4 linked regions of the Homo sapiens genome follow. The protein of the gene in region 1 interacts with the protein of each later gene in a biochemical or structural test. Each region holds a gene or a part of one and is shown in the gene's direction. Other genes may lie near its edges.

The links.
Region 2: the proteins of UBA1 (region 1) and UBTD2 are reported together in a solved structure, tested with the Homo sapiens proteins (one study listed by BioGRID).
Region 3: of the proteins of UBA1 (region 1) and UBE2U, one has a biochemical effect on the other in vitro, tested with the Homo sapiens proteins (one study listed by BioGRID).
Region 4: of the proteins of UBA1 (region 1) and ABCF1, one has a biochemical effect on the other in vitro, tested with the Homo sapiens proteins (one study listed by BioGRID).

Annotation. Positions count from the first base shown.
Region 1 is NC_000023.11:47,208,007-47,214,848, forward strand, and holds part of UBA1 (ubiquitin-like modifier-activating enzyme 1), read left to right. Parts: intron 1-1,616; coding exon 1,617-1,681; intron 1,682-1,921; coding exon 1,922-2,117; intron 2,118-2,835; coding exon 2,836-2,910; intron 2,911-3,029; coding exon 3,030-3,219; intron 3,220-4,417; coding exon 4,418-4,506; intron 4,507-4,764; coding exon 4,765-4,857; intron 4,858-4,983; coding exon 4,984-5,175; intron 5,176-6,320; coding exon 6,321-6,422; intron 6,423-6,530; coding exon 6,531-6,631; intron 6,632-6,787; coding exon 6,788-6,842. UniProt on the Homo sapiens protein: Catalyzes the first step in ubiquitin conjugation to mark cellular proteins for degradation through the ubiquitin-proteasome system.
Region 2 is NC_000005.10:172,233,235-172,241,176, reverse strand, and holds part of UBTD2 (ubiquitin domain-containing protein 2), read left to right. Parts: intron 1-6,818; coding exon 6,819-7,055; intron 7,056-7,942.
Region 3 is NC_000001.11:64,208,349-64,216,290, forward strand, and holds part of UBE2U (ubiquitin-conjugating enzyme E2 U), read left to right. Parts: intron 1-2,393; coding exon 2,394-2,491; intron 2,492-6,466; coding exon 6,467-6,584; intron 6,585-7,088; exon of another isoform or gene 7,089-7,177; intron 7,178-7,942. UniProt on the Homo sapiens protein: Catalyzes the covalent attachment of ubiquitin to other proteins.
Region 4 is NC_000006.12:30,571,842-30,579,783, forward strand, and holds part of ABCF1 (ATP-binding cassette sub-family F member 1), read left to right. Parts: intron 1-5,567; coding exon 5,568-5,614; intron 5,615-5,976; coding exon 5,977-6,072; intron 6,073-6,234; coding exon 6,235-6,361; intron 6,362-6,506; coding exon 6,507-6,544; intron 6,545-6,628; coding exon 6,629-6,736; intron 6,737-7,942. UniProt on the Homo sapiens protein: Isoform 2 is required for efficient Cap- and IRES-mediated mRNA translation initiation. Isoform 2 is not involved in the ribosome biogenesis.

The DNA of each region.
Region 1 (6,842 bases):
TAAAGATGTTATCCTGTGTGCCTGAAGTCACAAAACTAGGTAATACGTGGCATAGCTGGAATCTGAACCTGAATTTCTAACATCTGTACACTCCAAACCACCTCGCTAATGACTGCGAACTGTCCTAGGAATTCTCAGAGGCCAGAAGTTCTGTCTTGTTTGCTATTTTATTTTTTGAGACAGGTCTCATTCTGCCATTCAGGCTGAAGTGTATTGGCACAATCATAGCTCACTGCAACCTTCCAACTCCTGGGAAGTGTCTGTACGTGTGTGTGTGTGTGTGTGTAAGTGTCTGTGTGTACGTGTAAGTGTGTGTACGTGTGTGTGTGTGTGTGTGCGCACGCACGCGTGCCCGTTACGTTGACCAGGCTGGTTGTAAACTCCTGGGCTCAAGTGATCCACCTGCCTCAGCCTCCAAAAGTGCTGGGATTACATGTGTAAGCCTCTGTGTCCGGCCTCTGTCTTGTTTTCTGCCAAGTCCTCAGGGCCTGGATAGGGATCATTGTTGGTTTGGTCTGAGTTTTTTGTGTTTTAAAAAACTGTGGTAAGATATACCTAATTGAAGTTTTTATTTTTTATGGAGGCATAACATATCTAGAATAAGGTACACAGATTTTTTTTTTTTTTTTTTTGAGGTGGAGTTTTGCTCATGTTGCCCAGGTTGGAGTGCAGTGGCGCAGTCTCGGCTCACTGCAGCCTCCGCCTCCCAGGTTCAAGCGATTCTCCTGCCTCAGCCTTCCAAAGTGCTGGGAATACAGGCGTGAGCCACCTCGCCTGGCACTCAGATCTTAATACATTTTTAGGCTGGGCATGGCGGCTGACACCTATAATCTCAGCACTCAGGAGGCCAAGGAGTGAGGTTTGTTTGAGCCCAGGAGTTCAAGACCAGCCTAGGCAACATAGCAAGACCCTGTCTCTACAACAAATCTTAAAAATTAGCCGGGTGTGGTGGCATGTGCCTGCTGTCCCAGCTATTCGGGAGGCTGAGGTGGGAGGATCGTTTCAACCTGGGAGGTCAAGGCTGCTGTGAGCCGTGATTGCATCGCTGCACTCCAGCTCGGGTGACAGTGTGAGACTTTGTCTCAAACAACAAAACAAAACAGTTTTCCACATACACAGCACTATTGTAACCACTGCCCAAATCAACTTCATTGATTTTTCTTTTTTTGAGACAGTCTTCCTCTGTCACCCAGGCTGGAGTGCAATGGCATGATCTCGGCTCACTGCAACCTCCGCCTCCCGGGTTCAAGAGATTTCCTGCCTCAGCCTCCTGAGTAGCTGGGATTACAGGCATCTGCCACCACGCCCAGCTACTTTTTGTATTTTTAGTAGAGATGGGGTTTCACCATGTTGGTCAGGCTGGTCTCGAACCCTTGACCTCAGGTGATCCATCTGCCTTAGCCTCCCAAAGTGCTGGGATTACAGGTGTGAGCTACTGTGCCTGGCCTGGTTTTTCAATTGAGGTGGGGGAATGGGGAAGGCTAGAGGGCTTCCCCACTTCCAGAGTAGCTGTGCGCCTTGTACTTGCTTTATTCACTGATGGTCCTTCTAATAATGCCTGCGGAAACCCATTTTGTCAACTGTGGCCACATGTAATCTGTTTGCTCTGTCTGCAGTGGGCTCGGGATGAGTTTGAAGGCCTCTTCAAGCAGCCAGCAGAAAATGTCAACCAGTACCTCACGTGAGTAACTCGAGTGCCCTCTCGCCCTGTCCCTGTCCACCAGCCAAGGCATCCCGGCTGCTTTCCTCATGACAGTAACACTTGGCACCAGGCACACTTTTCACATGAATGAGTGGCTGTTGGGGCCTCATGTTGTTTGGGGTCGGGACTAGTTTTCCATGGAGAAAGTAAGATTGCTCTGGAGCCCACTCTTGAGGCTGACATGTAATCCTATCCTCTGTCCTCTTCGATTCCTGATAGAGACCCCAAGTTTGTGGAGCGAACACTGCGGCTGGCAGGCACTCAGCCCTTGGAGGTGCTGGAGGCTGTGCAGCGCAGCCTGGTGCTGCAGCGACCACAGACCTGGGCTGACTGCGTGACCTGGGCCTGCCACCACTGGCACACCCAGTACTCGAACAACATCCGGCAGCTGCTGCACAACTTCCCTCCTGACCAGGTAATGCCCAGTTGTTGGGTCCATTTGGCAGAATGTGTTTCCCTGAAATGGGAGCCTGCAGTGTGGGTCCTCCCACTGTGGAGTCCAGCTGTGGCAGGTGCCCTGAGGCATGGGGATCTGAGAAGAGTGATTGATCCTGACCTGCTTTTTCCTCACCCTAGTTCCTTTGAGCAAAGAGGCTTGGTTGCTATTGCCCTTGACTGTGGTGTGGGCTGCGTCATACCTGATTCCCAGTCAGGGCTGTAGGGATTATGGGGGAGAAATTCTGGAGTTAAGAGCACAGGAATCAATATGGGTTCAAATCCAAACTCTACTTGAACTTAGGCAAATCACGTAACTTCTCTCTGTACCTCAGTTTCCTCGTCTGTGAAGTAGAAATAATAGTGATCTATCTCATGGGGGGTTTGGGGAGGATTAACTGGTATTTATTAAAATGAAGTTAGTACAATGCCTGGTAATCCATGAGAGTTTGTTAAATGATGGGCTGTTTAGCACAAAATGGCTACCCAGTGATTGGTAATTGTTCTCTCAGCCAGATCTCTGGTTCAACCTGTGGGACCCTACAGTTGAGGTATTTTGTGATTGGCTCCAGTCCGCATCGAGTGCCCAACCCAAGATAGTGAATTGGGGGCACATCTGGGGCCTAGGTGAAGCGTGAAGATTGTCAGAGAGGCCTTCACTCTCAGGTCCTGTTCTCAAAAATCTCTCCATCCCTTAGCTCACAAGCTCAGGAGCGCCGTTCTGGTCTGGGCCCAAACGCTGTCCACACCCGCTCACCTTTGATGTCAACAATGTAAGTCTCCTTTCTAGGGTCTTCTGGGGTCAGGTGGAGGGTGAATAGGTGGGAAGGAGGTGGCGGCTCCCCACTCGAGGGCTGATGTGCTCACCCTTCCCTGCCCTGCCTTCTCCTAGCCCCTGCATCTGGACTATGTGATGGCTGCTGCCAACCTGTTTGCCCAGACCTACGGGCTGACAGGCTCTCAGGACCGAGCTGCTGTGGCCACATTCCTGCAGTCTGTGCAGGTCCCCGAATTCACCCCCAAGTCTGGCGTCAAGATCCATGTTTCTGACCAGGAGCTGCAGAGCGCCAATGCCTCTGTTGGTGAGGGTGTTTGGCCAGTTGGCCAGGAGTCACCCCACATGTCCCCGGCCTAGTCCAGCCTCCCCACCAGTCCTCTACCCCTGGTTCTGCTCTGCTCTGTGACCCCAGGCCTGAGGTTTACCCACACCTTCCTTTGAGCCTCCCTTTGACATGAAGAGGGTAGGTTGGGGCAAATTATCTCCCTCCCTCCTCCTCCTTCCCACTATCTGGCCCTCAGGAGAACTTGCTGTTTTACTCTTGCTCTGTGTATTTCCCTTAGTTTTGTTCTTTCTTCTGTTTCTTCTTGATCTGTTCATCTAGGAGGTATGATCTCTACCAGCAGTCTCTCTCCCTTGATACTTTCCTGCCTTGTCTCCTTCCAGATCCGCCCCCATCTGTACATCTACCTGCATGTTTCTCTGTGCATCTTCACCCTCCATAGTTTGGGGCTGCGGTTTACTGACACCCCCACCCCACCCCATCTGCATATTTTTTCACCACCCCTCCCTTCTGTATATGATGCTTCTGTAGCTCTGTAACGCCCCCTACATTTACCTTCCTTATATCTCCCCCGTCTTCCTCTCCATAGATCTCCTCCCATTTCCCCTTCCATGGTCCCCATCTTCCTTCTGAAATGTCTACTCCTTCATGTTCCTTTATGTATGTCTTCCAATCTTTCCTTCCATAGCTCTCATCACCTTCATATATTTCTTCCATCTTTCTCCTCCCACCTGCCTCGCCCTCTGTATATACCCCCACTCTCCCCCTTTTATATCTTCTCCATCTCCCCCCATATCTTTCCTCTATGTCCACATCTGTGTATTCCCCCCAACTTCCCCTCCATATATCTTTTTTACTCCCCTTTTCCTCCCTGTATCCTCTGTGTTCCCCCCATCTTGCTCTACATCATTCTTCCCAAGATCTTTACGTCTCCCATCTTGATCTCTCCATCTCCACTTTCTCCTAACATTTTCATTTCCGTTCCTTAGTGTCTCTAGAGAGATCATTCTTGATAGCCTCAGCTCTTTCTCTGTGTTTTTCAGGTTTGTATTCTGCTCTGCTCTACCTCTCCTCCTTGCCCCTTTTCTCTCCCAGGATGTCTCTCCTTTCCAAATCCTTTTTGTACCTGAATACCTTTTGCCCCACCCTGGGCTCTCATTTCCATCTCAGACCTTAGCCTGGGATCTAAAGGGCTGACAGTGTCCCTTTCTTCATGCAGATGACAGTCGTCTAGAGGAGCTCAAAGCCACTCTGCCCAGCCCAGACAAGCTCCCTGGATTCAAGATGTACCCCATTGACTTTGAGAAGGTATGGGGTGGGGCTCAGGACAGGGAAGGAGGATGGGCAAAGCATAGACAGGCTGGAGAAAACAGGAGTATCTGGAGCCAGCCCCGGGCCTTTGTGGGGATCAGATTGTGGGCCTGCCATATGGCTCTGAATGAGTAGGTGTTCCCAGCCATCCCTTTGTGATCTGGGAGAGTCCAGCAGGCAATTGCAGTGGAGGATACACATCTTCTTTATCTGATCCTCTCCCCACTGCCTTCACACCCTCCCCACTCATAACAGGATGATGACAGCAACTTTCATATGGATTTCATCGTGGCTGCATCCAACCTCCGGGCAGAAAACTATGACATTCCTTCTGCAGACCGGCACAAGGTGAGGGGAATCTAAATCTGATGTTCCACCCTCCTCCAGGTTTGAGTTACCCACACTTAGCCCCTCTGTAGACCCTGAGGCTCTTGTACTTAACTACCACCTTCTTTTGTCCCTTCTGTCTCTCAGAGCAAGCTGATTGCAGGGAAGATCATCCCAGCCATTGCCACGACCACAGCAGCCGTGGTTGGCCTTGTGTGTCTGGAGCTGTACAAGGTTGTGCAGGGGCACCGACAGCTTGACTCCTACAAGAATGGTTTCCTCAACTTGGCCCTGCCTTTCTTTGGTTTCTCTGAACCCCTTGCCGCACCACGTCACCAGGTGGGGGCCTGCATCCGAAGCAGGGTTTGGGTGGGGTGTATCTGTGTAGATCTGGTTCTGATTCACGTCATACCCTGTCACCAGGTGAGGGTTTCTGTCTGTGTACCTACCCTTTTTGTGTATCCTTTTTCACTTATTCATTAATCACATTATTTGAGTACGTGCGAAAAGATGGGATATTTGAATTGTGCCCTGGGAGATTATTAGTAACTACACAATAATGGCAGCCAAAATTTATTGGACGCTTCCTACACTTAAGTGCTTTGCTTGCTTCATTAATGAATTCACTCAAATATTTATTGAGCACCTTTTGTGTGCAGGGACTCTTCTAAGTTATGTTCCTCAAGTAGATTATATAAATAACCTATTAAATGATTTTGGAATCAAAAAAGGATAAAAAGAGGCCGGGCGTGGTGGCTTACGCCTGTAATCCCAGCACTTTGGGAGGCCGAGGCACGTGGTTCACCTGAAGTCAGGAGTTTGAGACCAGCCTGGCCAACATGATGAAACCCTGTCTCTACTAAAAATACAAAAAATTAGCCAGGCGTAGTGGTAGGCACCTGTAATCCCAGCTACTCGGGAGGCTGAGGCAAGAGAATCACTTGAACCCGGGAGGCGGAGGTTGCAGTGAGCCAAGATGGCGCCATTGCACTCCCGCCTGGGTGACAGAGCGAGACTGCATCTCAAAAAAAAAAAAAGATAAAGAGGACTTGAGAATACCAGGGGGCGAGGGGATGTATTTGAGATTTTGTGTAGGATGGTCAGAAAAGGCCTTGCTGAAAAGATGACATTTGAGATCAGACTTGGAGGATGTAAGGGGACAAACTGTGCAGGCTTGGTGGCGAGTGGGGACACATTCCAGGCAGAGGGACCAGTTCTTGAAAGGGTACCAAGATAGGGGTGTGCCTGGCAAGTTGGAGGAATTCAAAGTCCCCAGAGTGAGTGTGAGATTGAGGAGGGTAGGAGATGAGAAGAAAACAGAATTTCATTGCTTAGGGTGAGATAGGAACCACAAGAGGATTTCGAACAAAAGAGGGTTGTGATCTGACTAAACACGTCTGCATGGGGGTAGGGGGGATGGAGACAGATGGGGGCTGGACCCTCTGGGATGGTCTCCATCTTACACTCCCCTCTTTGTCTTGCAGTACTATAACCAAGAGTGGACATTGTGGGATCGCTTTGAGGTACAAGGGCTGCAGCCTAATGGTGAGGAGATGACCCTCAAACAGTTCCTCGACTATTTTAAGGTAAGGCCCCTCCCTTACTCTGTCACCCCACCTCAGGGGGCGAGGTGTACACGGTGACTTGCTGGCCTGTCCACCTCCATGACCCTGCTGTTCCCCCTCCCTCTCCAGACAGAGCACAAATTAGAGATCACCATGCTGTCCCAGGGCGTGTCCATGCTCTATTCCTTCTTCATGCCAGCTGCCAAGCTCAAGGAACGGTTGGATCAGCCGTGAGTTGGACACTGGCCAGGCTAGGGGAGGCCCTGTATGGGTTGGGGAGCCTCATCATCCAGCTGTCCCACTCCAGTTCACTGCCCCTACCTACCTGCCCATCCTCTCTTGCTTTCTGCCCTCCTGACCCTATACTCCCATCCCCCTATCCCCAGGATGACAGAGATTGTGAGCCGTGTGTCGAAGCGAAAGCTGGGCCGCCACGTGCGG
Region 2 (7,942 bases), on another chromosome or scaffold:
CTCCCAAAGTGCTGAGATTACAGGTGTGAGCCACCGTGCCCGGCCAGCATCCTTGATTTATGTGTGTGCCTTCTTTCTCATGAATTGAGAGAAGAAAAGGTCTCTACAATAAAAAAAAAAAAAAGTTAACTCATGGTAAAGCCATTGCCCCCAACCAGTAAAATAAACCATCTTAGAGTTTATATACTACTTAAAAGTTGCAGTGGTCTCATGTTAGGTGATCATATTCTTTTATTTATATATATGTATTTATGATAGAGACAGGGTCTCAATATGCTGCCCAGGCTGATCTTGAACTCCTTGGCCACATTGATCTGTCTGCCTTGGCCTTCCAAAGTGCTGGGATTACAGGCATGAGCTACCACACCCAACTGCCTAGGCGACCATATTCTTAGTCCCAGTTTCATATAATATTATCTTTCTCAATAAAGTTGTTTTGTGGAGTGGGGAGGACTTAATTGTGTGATTTCTTAATACTTTTAATAAGACTGACCCATTAAGAAAAGTTTTGTAGGATCTGAGAGCTATAGTTAAAAAAAAAGTGGGGGGAAAAGTCTTTGAACATACTATGTTGCGGTAGGTGTTACAAAATGTTGCCTGTTTGTATGCTCAGATCATTGGTAAGGGGACTTACACTCTGAGAATCAGGGCTAGGAATTCATTATGAAGTTATGTTGATTTTTTTCCCCCCAATAAAGCTACCTCAAAAACATTGAAATTATATAAATGCCTTTAAAATTATTATGCTTCAATTGGTAAGCTTTAGGATATGAGCATGGCAGAAGTTCATTTTTATTTCATTTTTAATAAAATTATAGTACGGAAAATGATGTATCTAACTTGTCTAGGCAGATATTCCTACATACGATCCTTAGTCTCTAATTTGTTGTAGATGCTAAGTACTTATAAGTTGAAAGTGATAGGCCGTAAAGCCACATCACCCCTTCTTTACTGCAGGATTCCTCTTCAGTGATCATGGTTGGTATCTCCACAACATAGATTAAGTGGTAGATTAGATAGGGCTAGGGAGCTGCTGCTTCTCCTTTGTTAGCTTTTCCTTTGTCTGGTCATAACCATTCCATTGGCCATAGTGAAGCCCATGGATGGATCATTTCTGTAGAAAAACAATTCAGCATATGCTTTATTTAGAGTGAATCTTCGTTATTGGTTTGCTATGTGAAAATAAGCAGCCCAGTAAGACATGGAGTGCTATAATGGAAAGAGAGATCTGGGCTTTGTTGTTGCTGTCTTCTGTTTTGTTTTGTTTTGTTTTGAGACGGAGTCTCGCTCTGTTGCCCAGGCTGGAGTGCAATGGTGTGATCTCGGCTCACTGCAATCTCTGCCTCCCAGGTTCAAGCGATTCTCCTGCCTCAGCCTGCCGAGTAGCTGGGATTCCAGGTGCCTGCCACCACGCCTGGCTAATTTTTGTATTTTGGGTAGAGATGGGGTTTCACCAGGCTGGGCACGGTGGCTCATGCCTGTAATCCCAGCACTTTGGGAGGCCAAGGCTGGTGGATCACCTGAGTTCGGGAGTTCGAGACCAGCCTGACCAACATGGCAAAACCTTGTCTCTACTAAAAATATAAAAATCAGCTAGGCGTGGTGGCAGGCGCCTGTAATCCCGGCTACTCGGGAGGCTGAGGCAGGAGAATCACATGAACCTGGGAGGCAGAGGTGGCAGTGAGCCGAGATCATGCCATTGCACTCCAGCCTGGGCAACAAGAGTGAAACTCCATCTCAAAGGAAAAAAAGAGAGAGACGGGGTTTCACCATGTTGGCCAGGCTGGTCTCAAACTCCTGGCTTCAAGTGATCCCCCCTGCCTCAGCCTCCCAAAGTGCTGGGATTACAGATGTGAGCCACCGCACCCAGTGAGATCTGGACTTTGAATTTGGGCATGTGTGTTCTAGTACGGGGTGATTATTTTAAGCCATCCTTGTTACATCTTAGTTTCCTATCTGTCAGTAAGGTTGGATTATACAATCTAAGGTCTCTTCTACCTTTAAATTCTCAAACAGTAGAGAAGATTTGCATATTGTATTGATTGTTGGCATTTTAGGCATTTTAATTCCCATATCCCTATTTTTTTTTGGCAGTTAGTTGCTTTAGGTAAAGGGAATATATGTATTATGCATGTATGTATATATGTGTGTATATAGTGCATTCTAAATTTATGTGAAAATATTTGCAAGTGTCCTTTTAGTTTAGCACCGTCTGTTACGGAAGGGTTCTAATACTCCATTTTTCCCCTCACGCTATTGTCTTATGGAAACTGATGCTTCCAGTTTTCAACCGGTTAAAGCTGTTGCTTGAGTCATATCTTGATATTTTCACCTTATCCATGCATTATGGCCTCTTCTTTCTTCATTTGAAGCGTTCCATCATTAAATCAAGGTTTTCAAAGAGGAACCCAAAACAGGAAAACAATTATAATCATACTTAACTTCAGAATTGATTGTTTTTTACCAATGTCAAAATGAGTTTTTGGTAGAATGCTTTAAATTATGTAGTAAAAATATTTAAAATTATGTGTTATTTAGATCTGAGAAACAAGCCTTACTTGGGTTTTCTGTGTGTTAGATCTGTTTATTTGTTACAGAGTGGGAAGAAGTGTTTAAAGATTACAAGGAAAGATAAAGAGTGGGTGAATATGATTAAGAGGTTTCTGAGAAAAAGATGACTTTTGGACACGTTTTGAAGTAAATGTGGATTGATGGGGGAAAGGATATTTTCTGAAATAGATTGTGTGGTTTTTTAAGATTAGATTGCTTTATTAATTTTTTATTTCTCATATGTTAATTCATAGTGCACTAAAGATGGTTGGTTACCTGCAGTTTAAGGATAGAGAAGCAGAAATTTGGGGAATAAAAGATGTTTCCTGTCTTTAAATTCTTCACTGTTAGAGCATGGTACCTAGTCCTATATGCTATGTATGATTACCAAGCATCTCTCTTTTGGTATCAGCAGTCAGAAGATGTGTGAAGCAGATAAAACTGAAAGTTTAAGAGCATAAAATGAAATCTAGTTGAGTATGTATATATTCTACATCTTACAAAAATGTTTGGCTTGGTACAAACATGAGGTACTTAGCTGCCAGGCTGATAATCTATGTCCAACTACTGCATTTTCAGAAATACAGGTTTGTGGCACCACCTGAACTCAAAGGATAAGATTTGGTGAACAAATGCCTAGCAAGTGTACTCTGATAAGGCACAGGAAGTGCATGACAATCAGGGACATTTCTTTAACATTTAAGGAAGGGATTGGGAAGTTATGAAAAGAAGAAAGACAGCCTGTATATTTTTGCCAAAGGACTTAAAGATGTTATTTCATATAGTACCTCTAAGTTCATTTTTACTTATTTAGCAAACATTTATTTGCAGTTTTATTGTATATCATGCATTATTATGAGTGGTTTATGAATATGAACTTAAGTCCTCTTAACAAACCTAAATATTTTCATGTTTTCACGAGAGGATAGTTCAAATGCTTTTGCTAAATGCTAATTTTTTTCCCAGTTATTTATTTAACAAAGGTTAGTCATTTAGTTTAACATGAAGCTTCAAGCCTCAGATTTTGTAGTGAAAATTCTGCACTGCTCTGTGGTTTCACTAAAGTAATTATGTTACAAAGATTTAATCATTTTTTAACAGTGGACATTCTATAGACAGATATTCTATATTATGTTTATAATACAGGCAGAAATAGGCAAATAAAAGTAATCTTCCTTCATGTCACAAATTACCGTGAAACTTTTGACAGCATGTAGATTTGAAAATGCATTGGGGGCCTGTCGCAGTGGCTCATGCCTGTAATTCCAGCACTTTGGGAGGCTGAGGCGGGCGGATCATGAAGTCAAGAAATTGAAACTATCCTGGCCAATATGGTGAAACCCCGTCTCTACTAAAAATACAAAAATTAGCTGGGCATGGTGGCGCGGGCCTGTAGTCCCAGCTACTCGAGAGGCTGAGGCAGGAGAATCGCTTGAACCCAGGAGGCGGAGGTTGCAGTGAGTCGGGTTGCACCAGTGCACTCCAGCCTTGGCGACAGAGCAAGACTCTGTCTCAAGTATATGAATAAAATTTAAAAATTAAAGAAAATGCATTTGGAATGATTTTCCTTAAGCAACATAAACGCATCATCTGTTCTTTTTGTGGGACTTTGTTCATCTATGCTTAGTACAAACGGAGAGAGGTGAAATGAACCTACCTCACATTTGTAAGGAAGGTGTTTTACAATTTTTCCAAGGTACTTTGTACCCTTATTATGATTGTTTTTCTGTTGGCTTCCTCTTTTCAAAGTCCTCTTCCTTTCATTTGCTTTAGTTTTAGGTCCTGAGATTCTTCTGTAGAGGTTTTGTTGTTTTTGTCCATGCTTTGTAATTCTCTCAGAATGACAGGAAAAATTATACTGAGTTATCTCTCATGCATTTAATACATATGAGGCCAGATAATTCTGTAGAAATACTCAGACCCAAAACTTTATTCAGATAAATATCTTACTGAGTCTACCTGCTTACTGTGCCATCTTCCACTTCCTGGTCAGTAAGCTGAGTGTTGTCTGTAAACTGTCTCTAACTCATCTAAATGATAATGTAGCAGAAAATAAAATCAACCTTGCATTCCATCGTGTTGGTGCAATCAGTGGGTTGTGGTTATCAGACCAGATTCTGAACATCTTCTAGAGAATTATGCTCTAGCTGCATTGTCTGTATTATTTGGAAGAGGTAGGGAAAAATCATTAGTATAGACTGTGTTTCTCGCATTTGAATTAAATGTAATAGGCACATCTGTAGTGTTACTCCCAGTAGACACTCAGTACATATTTGTTGATTAAATAAAGAGACTTGGATTCTGTTTCCAGCTCTGCTACTAAATGGATGGGTTTCCTATTCTGCTTCCTCACCCTTTCAGAACTCACCTGTTTTGCATTTCACTAGGACAAGTTAGAGGGCAAAAAGTATTTGAGTTAATGCTGAGTGTTTTAAGTGGAAAACAGCTAGTCTTTTGGTGTGCCACCCTGAGGGGAGAGGACAGAAGAGACCTGACCTGGCAGTCTTTATTGAGAATATAGCCTGGAGAGTAGAGATAGCCCAGGGTCTGGAGTCATTTTATTTTCTGTTTTGCATAGTCCAAATTTCATCTGGCCCTGGGCCAATGAGGGAGTAGTCAATTTCATGGATGCTTTAGAACCAGTTTGAGAGTGATTTCTTTAAAATTGGTATTCTTTCTGCAATTAAATATAGAACATTGAATTTTGACACACACCCTCTCTCCTTCCCACTCGCTGTGTCATTTATTTCCCACCCACTCTTTTCCAACACTCTTCTTATCTTTTCATCCAGCTTCAATTTTCTTTCTATCTTCTATCCCATCTATCAAACTATTCCCTATCTATAGCACTGTATAATCTTACAGAGCCATAAATAAGAATGGCTCTGTAGGTCAGTATGACCCATGGAAATAGATCACAGATAATACACCAGATGGTTATCTGGGTGCAAGGATGCTGCATCAGGCTTATTCCAGCGCTACTACTACATAACATTGTCTAAGGGGAGATGCTGCCACTTGCCCTCTGTTTTCTTCTTCTCTTGGGTTGAAACTAGGGTAGGGTATCATAGTTCTTCTGCTCCTTGTGGTTCGGAGCTAATCCCTTGGCCTAGCATCAAAGATTATCTCTTTTACTCCCAGTTCCTCAAAAAAACTAAAGTACTGATTCTACCCTTTGTAAATTAGTTCCTGTTTGAGTTCCAGAGAAAGGTATTTACAGTTCCTTGACTAAAGTCCAGAGAGTAGAATGCTAGAGGAAGCATTCCTCTAATCAGTTTGTTCATGATTCTGGTGGTTTGGCTCTTCTTTCTCTGGGCACTGAAAAGCAATCTTTTACCTCTTTGGATTTTCTCAGTTCCTACTTCCTGGTTTCATGTGTCCAAGCTACTATTGCCGTTTGCTTCCCCAAGTATCTTGCCTCTCTTTCGTGGTGTCTCTTGACTCTCATATCCTGCTCTTACAGTCTGATGAAACACTTACCTTCTAGGCAGTTCTTTTAAAATGAACAAAACAAAACTTTCATTGTATTAAAAAAAAATTTTTTTAGAGCAGTTTTAGATTCATAACAGAATTGAGAGGAAGGTACAGAGATTTCCTATGTACTCCCAGTGCCTACACATACATAGCCTCCTTTCCCTGATTATCAGCATCCTCCACCAGAGTGGTACATTCATTACAACTATAATTCTCTGGGGTTCTTTAGTTTTGTTTTGTTTTGTTTGAGATGAGGTTTCACTCTCGCCCAGGCTGAAGTGCAGTGGCATGATCATGGCTCACTGCAAACACAACCTCCCAGGCTCAAGTGATCCTCCCACCTCAGCCTCCCAAGTAGCTGGGACCACAGGCACATGCCAACATGCCAGGCTAATTTTTGTGTATTTTGTAGAGATGGGGGTCTCACCATGTTGCCCAGGCTAGTCTCGAACTCCTGGATTCAAGCCTTCCTTCCACCTCAGCCTCCCAAAGTGCTGGGATTACAGGTGTTGAGCTACTGCACTCAGCCTGTAATTCTTTTTAATGATCCTGTGGAGGGTGTACTGAGTGGAAAAGAGCTACCAATTTGTTTTGCATAGAGCAGTCTAATGTCTCTATTCACTTTTGTAGTTCCAAAATGTGTTAGAGGAATTTCAGGATGCACAAATTAGCTAGCAGGTAAATTTCTGGCTGTGATTTTGATGAAATAATCCAAGAGAGGAATGACCAGATAACTTTTGATACATATTTTATAAATTTTGGGTTTGATCTCAGTCTTTTATTTTTCTTTTCAGTTGCTCTAGGTCGTAACCAGCCTTTGAAAAAGGAGAAACCAAAATGGAAAAGCGATTATCCTATGACAGATGGACAACTACGCAGCAAGAGGGATGAATTTTGGGATACAGCACCAGCTTTTGAAGGCCGGAAAGAGATTTGGGATGCCTTGAAGGCTGCTGCACATGCTTTTGAGAGCAATGATCATGAACTGGCACAAGCAATCATTGATGGTGCAAACATAACATTACCACATGGTAGGTTTGGTGTTCCTCAAGGACAGAGGAAACATAATCAACTTTGTTTCTGATAGCAAGAAACCAAATGGGAGAGTGTTTTTCCTTGCTATGAATTATTCTAACTTTTTTTTTTAATGTAGCAAGGAATAGCATTCCTCTTTTTTTCTTGTACATCTTTCAGCTGGAGACAGGTTTTACTTTGTGTGTTTGTGTATACGTATATATTTTTTAAATATATCTTAATTTCAGAAAAGAACTCTTGATCATCTAAAAAGTTTCCGTGTAACCTAGTCCTCCATGAAGACCTCTTCCCTCCACCCTCCCACCCCCACCTCACCAGCCTCATCACCCTGCCAATCTATTGGAGCTTCCACTTCACTGGTTTCCTCCTAGCAGCGCTAGAGATAGAGTCTCAGTTTAGATTTTGTAAGCTGTAGAGACTCAGAGGATGCTCCTTTTAGTCATTATACTTTCTCATCAAGCCTATTTTTGGCATAATAAGCAAACCCAAACTTAGAAGAGAGTCCCGCATGTTTTTAAGGACAGTTTTCCATGATTGTAGCCCTGAGCATTCTTAGGAACTTCTCTCTTTTGCGTAGGAATGTGACTCTTTTAAGGATAACTGTAAGCTTTGAATGTTTCTGGGGATACACATATGCTGGTCCATGTACATACTCTTGTTTGGTCTCCTTGATGAGAAACATAGAATTTTTCATGCTACATTGAGATTTAGGTGTTAATTTTGTATTTACATTTTTTATTTCTGTATTAATATTCTCAGTATTCTCTTTAGTTTTTCAACTTAATATTTTTCAAGGTTGTCTTTTCAGATTTATGTAATAACCACCTTGCATTGATTCTATTCATTATTGTACCTTCATTGTTTTAATCCCTAGTACGTCCCT
Region 3 (7,942 bases), on another chromosome or scaffold:
GTTATCCCAGTACTTTGGGTGGTCAGTGGGGAGTATTGCTTGGGTCCAGGAGTTTGACACCAGCCTGGGCAACATAGTGAGACCTGTCTCTACAGAAAATAAAAAAATTAGCTTGGCATGGTAGCATGTGCCTGTAGTCCCAGCTACTTCAGGTCTGAGGTAGGAGGATTGCTTGAGCCCAGGAGGTCGAGGCTGCAGTGAGCCATGATTGTGCCATTGCACTCCAGCCTGGGCAACAGAACAAGACGCTGTCTCAAAAAAAAAAAAAAAAAAAAAAAAAAAAAAAAAAAAAAAAAAAGATGTTTATTCCCAACAGCAATGTTAGAAATAGGAAAAATGGAAATAACTTCAATCTCCATTAACACAGGAATTTTAAGTGAAATATCCTACAGTTACGTGTATTGCTTCTAAACAGAACGAGGAAGGTCTACGAACCTTTTAGGTCTAGATCATTGCTATATCCTTAGAATCTTCACTGCGTGGCATATAGTAGGTATTCAGATATTTTTTGAATAAATATTTGTGTCCAGAAATATGTTGAAAATACATTGTTAAGTGAAAAAATACATTGAACAATAAAATGTAAAATATATTCCCATTTAATAAACACACACATATGGGTGTGTATACATATATGTGTTTGTGTGTATATTTGTATAGACCAACTGGTAATATTGGTCTTGAATAGTAGAATTAGTAGGCAGGGGAACATTCATATTTTACATTAGATTTTTTATGTTTTTTTCCCAAGTACATTATTTTATTGTAATTAAAACCTATTTTTGGTATCTATAACACAAAATTAATTACATACGTGTGCCTTTATTTGTTTAAAATAGTTAGAATTATTGGATTAAATTCAATGGGGGGAGGTACTCTTATCCCCTAGTCCTCATCCCTCCCACTTCCATAAAGTAGAGGGAACTTTAGTCTCTAGGAGGGGGAAGGTATAGGAAAACTTGTGACTGCTCTTTTTTTTTCCCCCATCACTCCTCCTAGAAGTCACTTATCTGATTAGGGAGATGAAGGAAAGAATTGAGCATATGTGGCCCAGAACTTGCTCAACACTCTCTCCTTCTGACCATACTGGGTATAGTCTCTTTTGCTCCAGGCAGGAAACTTAGGCAGGCCTTCGGTTTGGGAGTTAAGTTTAAATCAGGGGGACTTTTGTGGAGCCTGATTAAAGCCATTCATCAAGTGCGTTCTCCATTTCAGTCTTATGTGCAATGAAGCTGATGTTTTTACTTCCACCTTTCAATACTTTGATCTATTTTATAATTACATATGAACTTGAGGGGAGAGAAGGGTTATTTACTAGCTTTCAACCCCCGCCCCCGCCCGCCCCGCAAAAGATGGCTATGTACAGTTTTAAGTCTTTATATAAAAAGCCAAATTGCCTTTCGGTGGTATTTGTACTCCTACCAAAAAGTACATATAAAGTTCTTATTTTAGCACCTTCCAATTCTGGCCATTGAAACTTTGAAGAAAATTTTTTTGCCAATTTGGTAAGAGTCTTGCTATTATTTTAATAAGCACTTCTTTGAATACTTGAGAAGTAAACATTTCCCACCTTTGTTGATTCTTATTTTGTGACTCGTATGATACAATTGACAGTGCTATCACATTGTCCTAGATGTTGCAAATATTTCCTCTAATTTGTCATTAATTTTCAACTTTGTTTATGCTGTTTTTTCACATCTGGGATTTAGAGATTTTTATGATTTAAAATAAATTTATATTTAAGATCTATTAATCTTGTCCTTTGAGGCTTTTGCAGTTGTCTTTCATCTTAGATGATCCTTTCCCAAAAGAAAATCAAATAGTCATTTTAAGTTTCTTCTAGTCATTCTACAGTTTTATTTTTCTTATTTAACTCTATTATTTTTTCAAACACTAAATTACTTAACTGTGTTAGGGCATATGCCAAGCTCCTGTACATCTTTCCAACTTAACATAACAGGACAACGCTGGAGGGAGGTTGTGCCCATCCTCAATGTGAAGATTCCATTTCTGGGACTAAGGCATTTACTGTTTGTCACCATTTCCAGTCTGGGGGAAGGGGGAAGAAAAGAAGGAAAGCCAGCTTCCTTTAAAAAAAGACTCAGAAATTGCACACTTATCCTTATGTCCCACAACAAAAACTTAGTCACAAGGCCACATCTTGCTAAAGGAGAGGATAGGAAAAACTGTAGGGGCACCTATGTATTCAGCTAAAACAACATGGTAATGGGTGGGAACCAGGGATGGGTATAGTGCTTCTCAGTACAGAGAGAAGAACTAGGAAAAAGGAAGAGTAAATGCAGATAATTTTTCTGGCTTATCATTTTGATGTTTGTAAGTTTTAAATAATAATTTATTATAAATGCAAATATTAATGTATTATTTTAATACAGTAGACCCACACACTGGTCAGCCCTGTATAGACTTTTTGGACAACCCTGAGAAGTGGAATACAAACTATACATTGAGCAGCATCTTACTTGCCCTACAGGTAAGAATGGATTTCATATAATCCTCTCTTTAATACTTTTAATTACCCTAATTATTCAAACTACAAGGATTAAAATATACAATGCATATTTAAGTGTTTAAAGAATTTGAGAAGTTTATTTAAATCCATACTTCTATATGAAGGCTACAAAGTGGAACTTACTTAAATTATAAAAACTATTATTTAAAGTGAAATTGATAGTTAAGGCCCCTCAAGACCAAAGAATGCATATCTTATAAAAGAATAAAATAATTATTTAGATGGTTTCAATTCTGAAAATATAACCTTAGGTTTTCTTTTGGTTCCTAACTTCACTTCCTGATGTTGAGCAAGCCTTTTAGATCTTTCTTCATTTATGGACCTTGCCTTCCTGAGAGAGGTGGATCGAATGACTACAACTTAAAATGTTCACTTTTGTTTTTTGTTTCTGACAGTGCTAGTTAGCTACTTTCTGTCCCAATAGTGTTCACATCAAACCCAGTGAACAATTTATACCAAGGATTTTCTCCTCTCCTCAGATGCCTGTTTCTCAGATGCCACCTTTACCCACTGGACCCATGGTCCTTAGAAGCATACCTCAGTGTTGTGCTATTTCTTTTCTTTTCTTTTTTTCTTTTTGAGACAGGATCTTGCTCTGTCACCCAGGCTAGAGTGCAACGGCACAATCCTGGCTCACTGCAGCCTCAACCTCCTGGGCTCAAGTGATCCTCCCACCTCAGCCCCTCAAGTAGCTGGGACCACCGGCATGCCCTACCATGGATGGCTAATTTTTTAAATTTTCTGTAGAGACGGGGTCTCACTATGTTGCTCAGGTTGGCCTCAAACTCCTGGGCTCAAGCAATCCTCCCACCTCAGCCTCCCAAAATGCTGGAATTACAGGCAAGAGCCACCACATCCACCCAGTGTTGTGTTATTTCTGGTCCTTAAAAATGCCTCCTTTCTCATCTAATGCTAAAATGAATTATTTCAGTGAACTTGCTTTGACCTCTTAGAGCTAGCTTAGCAATAATCTATCCATGACCTACTTATCACCAATAATATCTGAAGATAAATAATTACATTTTGATTATCTAGAATACTTGGAATATAAAATACTCTGGCATAATTGAGTTTTTAAATATAGAATTATAATATAAATTGCATTTCTTCTATTTCTTGTATTTGAAAATAAATAAAATAATACTTTCCTGGCTAGTCATCTTAGCATACTAAGTAAAATATAATCTTTAGGAAAGATTCAATGTTCAGTTCATTCATTCATTCTACAAATATGTATTGAGGATCTACTTGTGTGAGGTTGTGTTCTAGGAAGGAGACATTTGAGCAAAAAATTTAAGGGAGTGAGTGAGTGTGATATGCAGAAATCTGGGGTTAATCCTTTGGATTCCTTTAAACTGAGACATATTCTGATCTCATCCACCTAAACTAGAGTCTGCCCTAAGAATAGCAAAATGATCCCAAAATGTAATGAGTAAGGGCAAACCAGAATGAACTGGTGAAAATTTTGAATTGCAGAATAATTTGATAAAAGGAAAATGTGGGGCTCTGAGTTAGCTTGCTTGGCTTCACATCCTGGTTCTGCCACTTGATACCTTTGTATCTATCATTGGACAAATTTTTCCACTTCTCAATGTCTCAATTTCTTCATCAGTAAAATGGGGCTGTTGTTACCTCATGTAACCTGTGAGGAGGAAATTAATTAATGTGTGTAAAGAATTCGGAACTGTGCCTGGTCCAAGAAAATAACTCAATAGTTAATACAGGTCGAGTATTTCTTATCTGAAATGCTTAGGAATTGGAAATTTTTCCAATTTTTGAATATTTGCATTACATATACTTACCATTTGAGCATCCCAAATTTGAAAATTTGAAATCTGAAATACTCCAGTGAGCATTTCCTTTGCACATCATGTCGGTCCTCAAAAAGTTTTGAATTCTGGGGTATTTAGGATTTCAGATTTTCAGATTTAGGATGCTGAACCTCTAGTTAGTTAACATTATGATTGTTCTTACTATTAAAGAGTAATGCAAAGTGACACCAAAGTGTTGCCAAATATATCATGGAAAGCCAGTAGATAACACAATTTTGTCTTTTTATTTTTCGAAAACATTAATAAAACAAATATGCCCACATTACAAAAGATTTTTAAGATAATGGGAAGGAAAAGAAAATCACTGACAATTATAAAGAAAACCCTTAACTTTACTGTTACTAGGAAAGAGCTTTCTGCTCTTTTCTCCTGTTTTTCAGTTTAAAATCTTTCAGTGGATCCCACCTTCTCCACAGGTGTAAGCTCTAGTTCTGTTGCATATCTAATCCTCACACCTAGACTCTCCCTAACACACCAGGCAATCCTGCTCATACTTATATCTTCATGCTTTTCTGCACTCACATTGCTTGGGTCAATTCAGATAAAAAAAACATTCATAGAGTTCTAAAGTTACCTTAGAAATGGTCAGTCTCCAGTTCCCCTCTGCCTGGCAACTCATTTTCTCCTCTTCTCTTCCTCAGTCTGTCCAGCAAGCAGTTGTTCATGTTGTTGTAAGAGTTGGAACAAATGAATCGTCCTCTAGGATACCTTTTCTGATTTATTTTCCTAGGGAGAATTAATAGCTTTGGTTTTGGGGGAGCTTCCTTTGCTACACACCCAACAGTACCCTGAGCAGATTTCTGTTAGAACACTAATACTATAAAGCACACACTGCTTACTTATCTGTCTTCCCCTATTGGACTGCAAGCTCCCCAAAATCAGGAAACAGGTCTAATTCATCCTTGATTTCCTGGAGCATACCAAAGACAATGCTGACATTTGGTAGATATTAAATAAAATGAATGAATGAATGAACCTGAATTTTTACATTATTGCTATTATGGTATGTATATTGCCATGTGCTTAGCAACAAGGATACATTCTGAGAAATGAGTTGTTACACATTTCATCGTTGTTTGAAAATCATGGAGCGTACTTACACAAACCAAGATGGTATAGCTTAATACATACGAAGGCTATGTTATAGCCTGTTGCTCCTAGGCTACAAACCTATACAACATGTTACTGTACTAAACACTATAGGCCATTGTAACACAATGGTAAATATTTGTGTATCTAAATATAGAAAAAGTACAGTAAAAATTTGGTATTATTATCTTATGGGACCACCATGATATATGCCGTCTGTTGTTGAGTGAAACATTGTTATGTGGCACGTGAGTATGTAAACTATACAGCCTGTTTCTTTTTCACTTAACATTGTCTCTCAAGTAACTTCCATATGGTTATAATCAATATTTTAATAGCTATTCAGTATTCCTTTGAAGGTCAGTGCTGCGCAGTAGCACTTTCTGCATTGATGGAAATGTCCAATATATCTCACCGTTCAATACAGTACCTACTAGTCATATGTGGCTACTGAGCACTTGAAATGTTACCACTGTGACTAGGGAGCTGAATTTTTAATTTTATTTAATTTTAATTATTTTAAATGTAAATAACCACCTGTGACTGTGCCTACAGTGATGGGCAATACAAGTTGAGACCATAATGACTAACTACTTCTTTCTTGATAACAAATTAGATACATTTTCAATTATCACACTGTTATTCAAGGGAAGTGTACTTGAAATGTTGGTTAAAATATTTTGAATTTTAAATACACTAACCACCATCAACTAAAATTTTTATAATCTTAATTTAAATTCAATGTAAATGTATATGCTAGGAAGGAACAAGTTACAGAAAGGAACTTGTAACTTGCTTTTTGATCTATCACAGTTTTATACCGTACATTCATGAGCCTAAGGTTAGGTTTCTTGAGAGTACAGACTATGTCTCATGTTATTTTTTAATCTATTTCCAGATCCATACATAGTAAGCATTTAATACATGCTTATTGAAAGTTGTATATATTGGTTTGTCGTTTTGCTCTAAAAAAAGTTTACTTCTGAAATTATATGTTGTCTGTGTTTTCCTATAGGTTATGCTTTCTAATCCAGTGCTAGAGAATCCAGTGAATTTGGAAGCAGCCAGAATACTGGTTAAAGATGAATCTCTGTACAGAACAATTCTAAGACTTTTCAACAGGCCATTACAAAGTAAGAAGTATCTACTTTTGTTAGGTGCAGTGGCTCACGCCTGTAATCCCAACACTTTGGGAGGCTCAGGTGGGTGGATCATCTGAGGTCCGGAGTTCGAGACCAGCCTGACCAACATGGAGAAACCCTGTCTCTACTAAAATACAGAATTAGCTGGGCGTAGTGGCACATGCCAGTAATCCCACCTACTCGGGAGCCTGAGGCAGGAGAATCACTTGAACCTGGGAGGCAGAAGTTGCGGTGAGCCGAGATCATGCCATTGCACTCTAGCCCGGGCAACGAGAGTGAAACTCTGTCTCAAAAAAAAAAAGAAGTACCTACTTTTTGTTATTTGGCAATTATCAATTATACTTTAAACATTTATAGCATAGTGATCTAGGAAATAACTGTTATATAAGGGAATATTTGAAATATTTTCTGTATCCATTTTCAGTAATGAATGGTATTAAGATCTCTCCTACTGTAACTCTTTGTGAAACCAATCAGTGTGATCCTTTTTTAAAGATCATCAAAGATCTCAAGCTCCGTATCTTTAAATATTATGGTCATATGCATGGATGGTGCCAAATGAAACTAGTCCACCCATCATAAAGGTATGACATCTAATTTTGACTCTTCAATCTGTAATGGACATTTCCCAGACTTCACCTGCAGTACTCCAGATCTTACTGATTTGTACCACTTTTCTTCTTGATTAGCAAGATGTCAATGATTTTTTTCCGGAGAGTTCCCTCCCCAGGAATTCCTTCTAAGAATCCATGTGGAAATAGAGCCTGAAGCTCTTCAGTCTTTCTGCTCCACTGAGCAGTGTTTTCCTGATACCCTTGGTATCCTGCCAGCAGCCTCGTTATGACTCCTAACTCCATTGCCTCCATTGCCCCTGTGCGCTCTCTCTCTCTTTCTCTCCAGGTAGTAGAGCACTGCTTCTGGCTTCTTGTGCACAGAAGGGTTTCCCACAGCTGAGAGCTGGGCTCCTACTGACATAGTTATTTCCTTTATATCCTGCCCCACCTTCTTCTGGTAGCACACAGCAACCTTGCATAGTAGCTGGTATCATTACCTTCCCAATCAACAGGCCTTGATTTCTTATAGTACTTTTTCTCTCAGATTTACATTGCTTCTTTTTCTGTTTCCCTTCCAGGACTCCCAGTCCATTAGCTAGGTCTGTATAATTGTGACCAAGTTCAATTGCTCCTCCTCCACAGGGTTTTTGGGTCTGATACAAATCAAATGGTGTTGATCAAGCATCTTTTCCAGTACCATAGAACTTTATTCTACGACAAAGTTCTTGGGGGAGCTATTTGATCACAAGCTTAAGGTGAAGCAGTAATAGAAAATTCCCTTCTTCTAAGTATGTG
Region 4 (7,942 bases), on another chromosome or scaffold:
TTGCTTAAAAAATTTGGACATCCGCCCCACCATACACTGTATTCCACCAGGAATATATGAGCCCTGCCTCGACCTCCCCTTCCCCCTGCGCGCGCATACACACACCTTGGGAGCCTGTGATCCCCCTTGTTTCTCAAGAGAGGGTGACTCCTTCATGGTTTCTTTCTTAAGACACCCCTCTCACTCAACTGGAGCAAGAGTGTAGATTTTTGATGTTGGAATGAGGGTTAAGGTTTACTTAAAAAGCAGCGAAAGTTTGTTAAGCGCTTGTTTTTAATTAAGCACTCTATATACTGTGCTTTGAGAGGGGAAGGAAAAAAACATGAAGATATCCTCCCAGGGTTGAAGTCAGTTTTAAGGGGGACATAAATGGACACAACTAACCCCAGTAGGTACACAGTAACTAATTTTAAAAGCACTTATTGGATGCCTACTGTATACCAGGTACTGTGTGGAGGAAGTGGGAATGTAGAGATAAAAGATAAGACTTTCCCTCAAGGGACAACCCAGTATGGTGAAGGGTCAGAGCATTAACCAGACAGACAGTGGTTGTCAGAGTATGATGAAGGTGCTTAAGAATGTTATGGGACTGTAGAAGAGAGGAGGAGCATCTACTCAGACAGGTAAGGGAGTGTCAGCAAAGCCTCCCAAGAATATGTAATAGCTGAGTATTTTTTTTTGAGGCACATTGTAGCTCCATCACCCAGGCTGGAGTGCAGTGGCATGAACATGGCTCACTGCAGCCTCCACCTCCTGGGTTTAAAGGATCTTCCTGCCTCAGTCTCCCAAGTAGTTGAGACTACTGGCATGCACCACCACACCTTATTTTTAAAATTTTTTGTAGACACAAGATCTGGCTATGTTGCCTAGGCTGGTCTCAAACTCCTGGGCTCAAGTAATTCTCCTGCCTCAGCCTCCAAAAGTGCTGGGATTACAGGCGTGAGCCACTACATCTGCTCCCCAGAGTTTATTCTTGAAAGATCATCGTGAATTAGCAAGGGGAAGCGCATTCCAAGCCAAGGAAGTTTGTGGAAGGTAGAGATGTAGGCAAGCCTGACTGGTCCCACTAGAGCCTGGTGACTAGTGTGATGAAGTCAGAAAGATGCTCAGGAGACAGATAATGAAAGGCTTTAGATGCCATTCCGAGGAGTTTAATCCTAAAGACATTAAGAAGGAAGGCCCATTGAAGTGCATAAGGAATGATTATGAACAGTTCACCTGTAGCACTGAGCAATGGAGAATGAATGGCCTTGAACTGGTCAAGATGGAGGCGGGGAGACCATTTAGGGGGCTCTGGCCATGATCTAGGTGAGAAGTGGTAAGGGGATAAGCCAAGGCCTGAAGAATAAAGAGTTACTAAGGAGGCGGCATTGATCGGAACTGAGAACTGATTAAATGAAGGGAGAAGTAAGGTTGACACTTAAGTAACCCAGTGACTAGTAGACTATTAACTGAAAGCAGTAATGGACAGGAGAGTAAGAAGTGGAAAGAGATAAGGTGAACTTCTGAATGCTGAGTTAGGCGTTTCTGAGGATTTCTAAAAGGAAATGGCAAGAAGAGAGTTTGTTTAGTCACTGTGGAGAGACAACTATACTAGGAGTAAAGACACAGGCAAGTAGAGTTGAAGTGCTGGATATGGAAGAGTCCCCTAGAGAGTGTTTGCAGATTGAACCAAAAAGAAGGTTAAAGGTGGGAACCCTAAAGAACTTCAGCAATTGCAGGAAGCAGGTGGGGAAGGAGGCTGAAGAGATGAGACTGAGAAAGGCAAACAGCCAGAGAAACTGGAGGCAAACCAGGAGTGAGCAAGATCCCAGAAATTAAATAATGATAGAAGAGAATAAAAAAGGTGTGGAGGTAGGCAGCATGGAATGCTGCAGAGAAGTCAGGCAAAATAAGGACCAAAAAATACTTTGTGGTTTGAGGAGCTAAGGGTTCAGTGGCAACTTTGGCAGAAGTAGTGTTCATTCGGAGATGATACCAGATTGCAGTATGTTTCAAAGGTATGGGAGAAGAGAAAGTGAAGCTTGTGAATTACGATTTTGAGACCCAATGAGGACAAGAATACGAAACAGTAATGGGGGAGAGGGGTATAAGGGTAAAGAAGGCTTGCTTTCTTGCCTTGAAGGAGCAGCTTAAGCGATATACGAAAGGAGAGAAGACACAGTATATCTCTAGCCACACTTAATCTTTTTCAGTTCCTTGGGGATTATACTTTCTCACAATGAAACTCTTCGGAGGCTTTTCCTGTCCCTATAATGAAGTGGATAAGAGTGATTAAAGTACAAAAGATTTTTTTGGTTTTGGTGGGTTTTTTTTTTTTGTGACGGAGCCTCACTCCAGGCTGGAGTGCAGTGGCGCGATCTCAGCTCACTGCAGCCTCAATCGCAGGCTCAAGCCATCTTCCCTTGTAGCTGGGACTACAGGCACACACCGCCATGCCTGGCTTATTTTTTGTTTGTTTTTGTTTTTTGTTTTCTGTAGAGATGAGGTCTTGCTATGTTGCCCAGGCTAATCTTGAACCTCTGGCCTCAACCAGTCCTCCCACCTTGGTCCCCAAAATGTTGGGATTACAGGCGTGAGCCAGTGTGCCTGGCCACAAAAGAGATTTAAAGGAAGGAGAGATGGTATGGCTGTGTTAGTCCTTGGGGAGAAATTAGTGTCTGGGATGAGTCAGTCATCTGTGTTGATAAGGTGAGCTGATCAGGTTTTTCCTTCTTAGGTACTTCAGTAGATCCTTCCTCCTAATGCCTTTAGGATTAAACTCCTTGGAATAGCATATAAAGCCTTTTATTATTAATCCTGCACAATTTTTCAACTCTCACACTAGTCACCCAATACTGGGCTCAGATTTTTTTTCTTTAACTTTTTTGTTTGTTTTTTGTGGTTTGTTTTTTGGGGAGGAGGAGGGCCCCAAACTTTGAAATGTGTTCTGGATGGAGGATGCAGATTAAGCAAAGACAGACATAAGCGTGCCTGGGACTTCATAAAGGAACAGAAAGAAGCCAGTATCGAGACCAGAGGTGTGGGTAGGGAAACAGAAAAGATAGGGTAGGGCCATTTTAGTCTGTGAAGCCTTTAATTATTGGAATTGTCTCTCGTTAACTCTAGTTTTTTGGAGAAGTAGATGCACCATAAAACTTTCCTGAATAAATGATTACTTTGAAATACATGGAATTCTAGTCTGAGAATATTTTAATGTAGTAGATGGCGGATACCATTGACTTTTTTTCTTTTTTTTTTTTTTTTTTGAGACAGTCTCGCTGTGTCACCCAGGCTGGAGTGCAGTGGCGCGATCTTGGCTCACTGCAACCTCCACCTCCCAGGTACAAGCGATTCTCCTGCCTCAGCTTCCCAAGTAGCTGGGACTACATGCGTGCTCTGCCACGCCCAGCTAATTTTTGTATTTTTAGTAGAGATGGGGTTTCACCATGTTGGCCAAGCTGGTCTCAATCTCCTGACCTTGTGATCCACCCACCTTGGCCTCCCAATGTGCTGAGATTACAGGCCTGAGCCGCCGCACCCGACCAATTTTTTTTTTTTTAATATTAAATACTGAAATGCTTAAGGGTAGAATTAGATAGCAGTGAATGGAAGGGATGTTTTGGAAGAGAAGATAATAAATAGGCCTAAGCCTGAAGGGAAATCATGAGGCTGCCTCCAGTAGGGGAGGGAGTTGGACATGGTCCTCTACCTTCAGGGAAACAAGGATGGAGAGGGGGAGAGCTAGAATCTGTTGAATCTGTTTTGGCTTTACTGGGAACACAGGCTAAACAGTCTCTCAGGTTACTCTCTAGAATGAAAGCACACAGACAGGTAAATATGACACAATGTGATTTGTGCTATAATATTCAAGCAGAACAAGTAAGGCATAGACTGAGGTGTTCATTTGCTTACCAGATAACTCTATTTACATGGCCTATAGGTTTTACAAACAACGTGTCCCCCTGGCCAGGCACAGTGGCTCAGGCCTATAATTCCAACAGTTTGGGAAGCTGAGGCAGGAGAATTGCTTGAGGCCAGAGGTTCAGGATTAGCCTGAGCAACATAGTGAGACCTCCTCTCTAAAAATTATTATTTTTTTAATTAGGCAGGCATGGTGGCGCTTGCCTGTAGTCCTAGCTACTCAGGAGGCTAAAGTGGGAGGATCACCTAAGCCTAGGAATTTAAGGTTACAGTGAGTTATGATCATGCCACTGCATTCCAGCCTGGGTGACAGAGCAAGACCCTGTCTCTTAAAAAAAAAAAAAAAAAAAGGAGGGTGTGTGTGTGTTGTATACATGTGTGTGTATCTACACATATCTCCCAAATTGAATTTATAATATCTTCTTCCTTCCTATAAGACCTTCTCTTCCACTGCCTCCTTAATTAATAAATGGTACCACTTAGCCCAGCTAATTTTGCCAGCTAAAAACACAGGAGTCATCTCTGAGTGCTCTTTTTTTTTTTTTTTTTTTTTTTTTTTTTGAGATAGAGTCTTGCTCTGTCACCCAGGCTGCAGTACAATAGCGTGATCTCAGCTCACTGCAACCTCCGCCTCCTGGGTTCAAGCAATTCTCCTGTCTTAGCCTCCTGAGTAGCTGGGATTACAGGCGCCCGCCACTATGCCTGGCTAATTTTTTGTATTTTTAGTAGAGACTGGGTTTCACCATGTTCACCAGACTAGTCTTGAACTCCTGACCTCAAGTGATCCGCCTGCCTCTGCCTCACAAAGTGCCGGGATTACAGGCATGAGCCACCGCGCCCGGCCGGGTGCTCTTTATTCCCCACCTCTAGCCCCATCCTATGAATTCTTCTTTATGTCCGCTTGTCACCACCACCCAGACTACTCTGACAGCCTCCCCAGTGGATTTCCCACTATGCTTATTCCCTCCGATTCTTGCTGTACTCTGAAGCCAGAGTGAAACTTTAAAGTGTGAAAGTGATCATACCAATAAAGTCCCCATTCCTTAACCTTGCTACAAGGCCCTCACTCCAGCCTTACCTTGCACCATTCTCCCCTCAGTCTGTAAGCTTAGCCATACCAAACCTTTCCCTGTCTCTCAGTGTGTGTGCTTTCTCACAGCTGGGCCTGTGCACAGCACTGGAATTACACCATGTGTCTGACTAACTTCTCATACTCCTCATTACTTCAGTTATTTGCTTAAATGCCATCTTCTTAGAGAGGCCGCCACCAGAGATGAAGCCAGCCTCTCCCCCACCACCAAGTAGGCTTTACCTTTTCTTTTGGAACCTTCAGTACACCTGGAATTACCTATTTAAAAATCTCTCTTCCTATAGCCTGCAAGCTCCAGAGGAGACCACATTTGTCTTGTTCATTGCTATGATCCCCTACGCTAGCACAATATCTGACACATGGTAGCTGTTTAGTAGATACTTAGTGGATGAATGAATAGAGATGGGAATGATTATTTCTGCAGGAGTTGTGAGACAGTACAAATATTTAAGGAGTGATAGTTAAGCTAGAAAAATAATAAAATAGGATAGAGGCTACAGAGATCTTTGCAGGGGGGATCAGACTGCTTTGGAATTTGCAGATAAGCATTCACGATGTCCGCTTAACTTTCTAGACAAAGTGGTGAAGAAAGGGAAGAAGGACAAGAAGATCAAAAAAACGGTGAGAAAATGAGGGTTGAGGATAAGAAATGACTATGGATGTTTCCAAGCTAAATAAATAGCCATGTGAAGGAGGTGGGAGGTCCAAGGGAGGAGAAAAGATCTTGTCAAGAGAGGAGATAGGCAGGGCACGGTGGCTTACACCTGTAATCCCAGCGCTTAGGGAGGCAGAGGTGGGAGGATAGCTTAAGCCCAGGAATTTGAGACCTGCACACTCCATTCTCCACAAAAAGAAAAAAAAGAGAGAGACAGGAGGTAAGGTGAGGGTGGAGTGGAGGGCCAGTGGGCCAATGTGTGGCAGAGCACAGCCTGCTTGGATTGCTCTTGGAAACATGTTTACCTGTAGCTTAACTCCCTTTATAGTTCTTTGAAGAGCTGGCAGTAGAAGATAAACAGGCTGGGGAAGAAGAGAAAGTGCTCAAGGAGAAGGAGCAGCAGCAGCAGCAACAGCAACAGCAGGTACAAGTGCCACAGGGCCCACCAATCCTGGGAGGCATCTGGGTTCCACCAACCCCTTTCCAGCCCATGTTGCTCCATTCAGCTGATGGGGAACCCTCTGTGAGGCAGAAATACAGCAGGGGCCTGGGCTTCATTTTCTCACTGTTCTTTTGCTCTCAGCAGCAAAAAAAAAAGCGAGATACCCGAAAAGGCAGGCGGAAGAAGGATGTGGATGATGATGGAGAAGAGAAAGAGCTCATGGAGCGTCTTAAGAAGCTCTCAGTGCCAACCAGTGATGAGGAGGATGAAGGTAAATGACCTGAGGGGGAATGGGTACCTGGAATCCATGAGTCATGGAGAGTGATACCTCATACCCTGATCTTCAAGTTGGATTCAATTGGGGGGCCAGACATTGTAATTCTTTCCTATCTCATGTTCTCCCCCTGTCATTTCAGTACCCGCCCCAAAACCCCGCGGAGGGAAGAAAACCAAGGTAAGCCATCTGTGTGGTAAACGGAGACTCCAAGGATGCAACCTTGACCATCCTACTGACTTCTGTGGCCCTTTCATTCTCTAGGGTGGTAATGTTTTTGCAGCCCTGATTCAGGATCAGAGTGAGGAAGAGGAGGAGGAAGAAAAACATCCTCCTAAGCCTGCCAAGCCGGAGAAGAATCGGATCAATAAGGTGACAGTGGTGGCTCGATCAGTCACTCTCACTCCATTTAGCACCTTCTGGCCATGGTGGAGTAATTTCCCGCTTTTAAACTAGCTCTTCTCGGTCTGTCTTACTTATACTGTTAAAATCATCTTTTTAGAATACATGCCCAGGCTGGGCACAGTGGGTCACGCCTGTAATCCCAGCACTTTGGGAGGCCGAGGTGGGCGAATCACGAGGTCAAGAGATCGAGACCAGCCTGACCAACATGGCGAAACCTCATCTCTACTAAAAATACAAAAATTAGCCAGGCGTGGTGGCGTGCGCCTGTAATCCCAGCTACTTGGAAGGCTGAGGCAGGAGAATCACTTGAACTTGGGAGGTGGAATTTGCAGTGAGCTGAGATTGAGGCACTGCACTCCAGCCTGGGCAACAGAGCAAGACTCAGTCTCAAAAAAAAAACAACAAAAAAAACCATGCCATTTTTATCACTCAGAAATCTACAGTGATTCTGTTGCTTTAAGCACAGAACCTGAAACAAAGCCCCAGGTCCTTGCTCTTCTACTTGTGACTCTTCTGCGTGTGCATCTTAGTCCATGTCCATTTGAGCTCTTGAGAAAGCCTCCAGTGCTAGTGCCACTCACTCTGGTGGCGCACTTGCCTGACTTATAATCCTTAGCCTTGCTGACGTTCCCTAGTTATCTCTTCGCTATCTAGTCTGAAGCTGGAGGGTAGGGTTTTTCTGGGTCTCATTTTTCGTCAGCAGCACTCAATACAGATGGTCTCCAACTTCTGCTTCGGTGTACGATTTTTCTACTTTATGATGGTGTGAAAGTCATACTCATTTAGGGTACTCCTCAACTCATGATGGGATTATATCCAGATAAACCCATCATAAGTTGGAACTATTTTTTTTTTTTTTTTTTTTTGAGACGGAGTCTCACTCTGTTGCCAGGCTGGAGTGCAGTGGCGTAATCCTGGCTCACTGCAACCTCCGCCTCCCGGGTTCAAGTGATTCTCCTGCCTCAGCTTCCTGAGTAGCTGAGATTACAGGCACGTGCCACCACGCCCAGCTAATTTTTGTGTTTTTAGTAGAGACAGGGTTTCACCATGTTGACCAGGATGGTCTCGATCTCTTGACCTTGTGATCCACCTGCCTTGGCCTCCCAAAGTGCTGGGATTACAGGTGTGAGCCACCACGCCCGGCCAAGAACTATCATTTTTTATTTAAGTTTC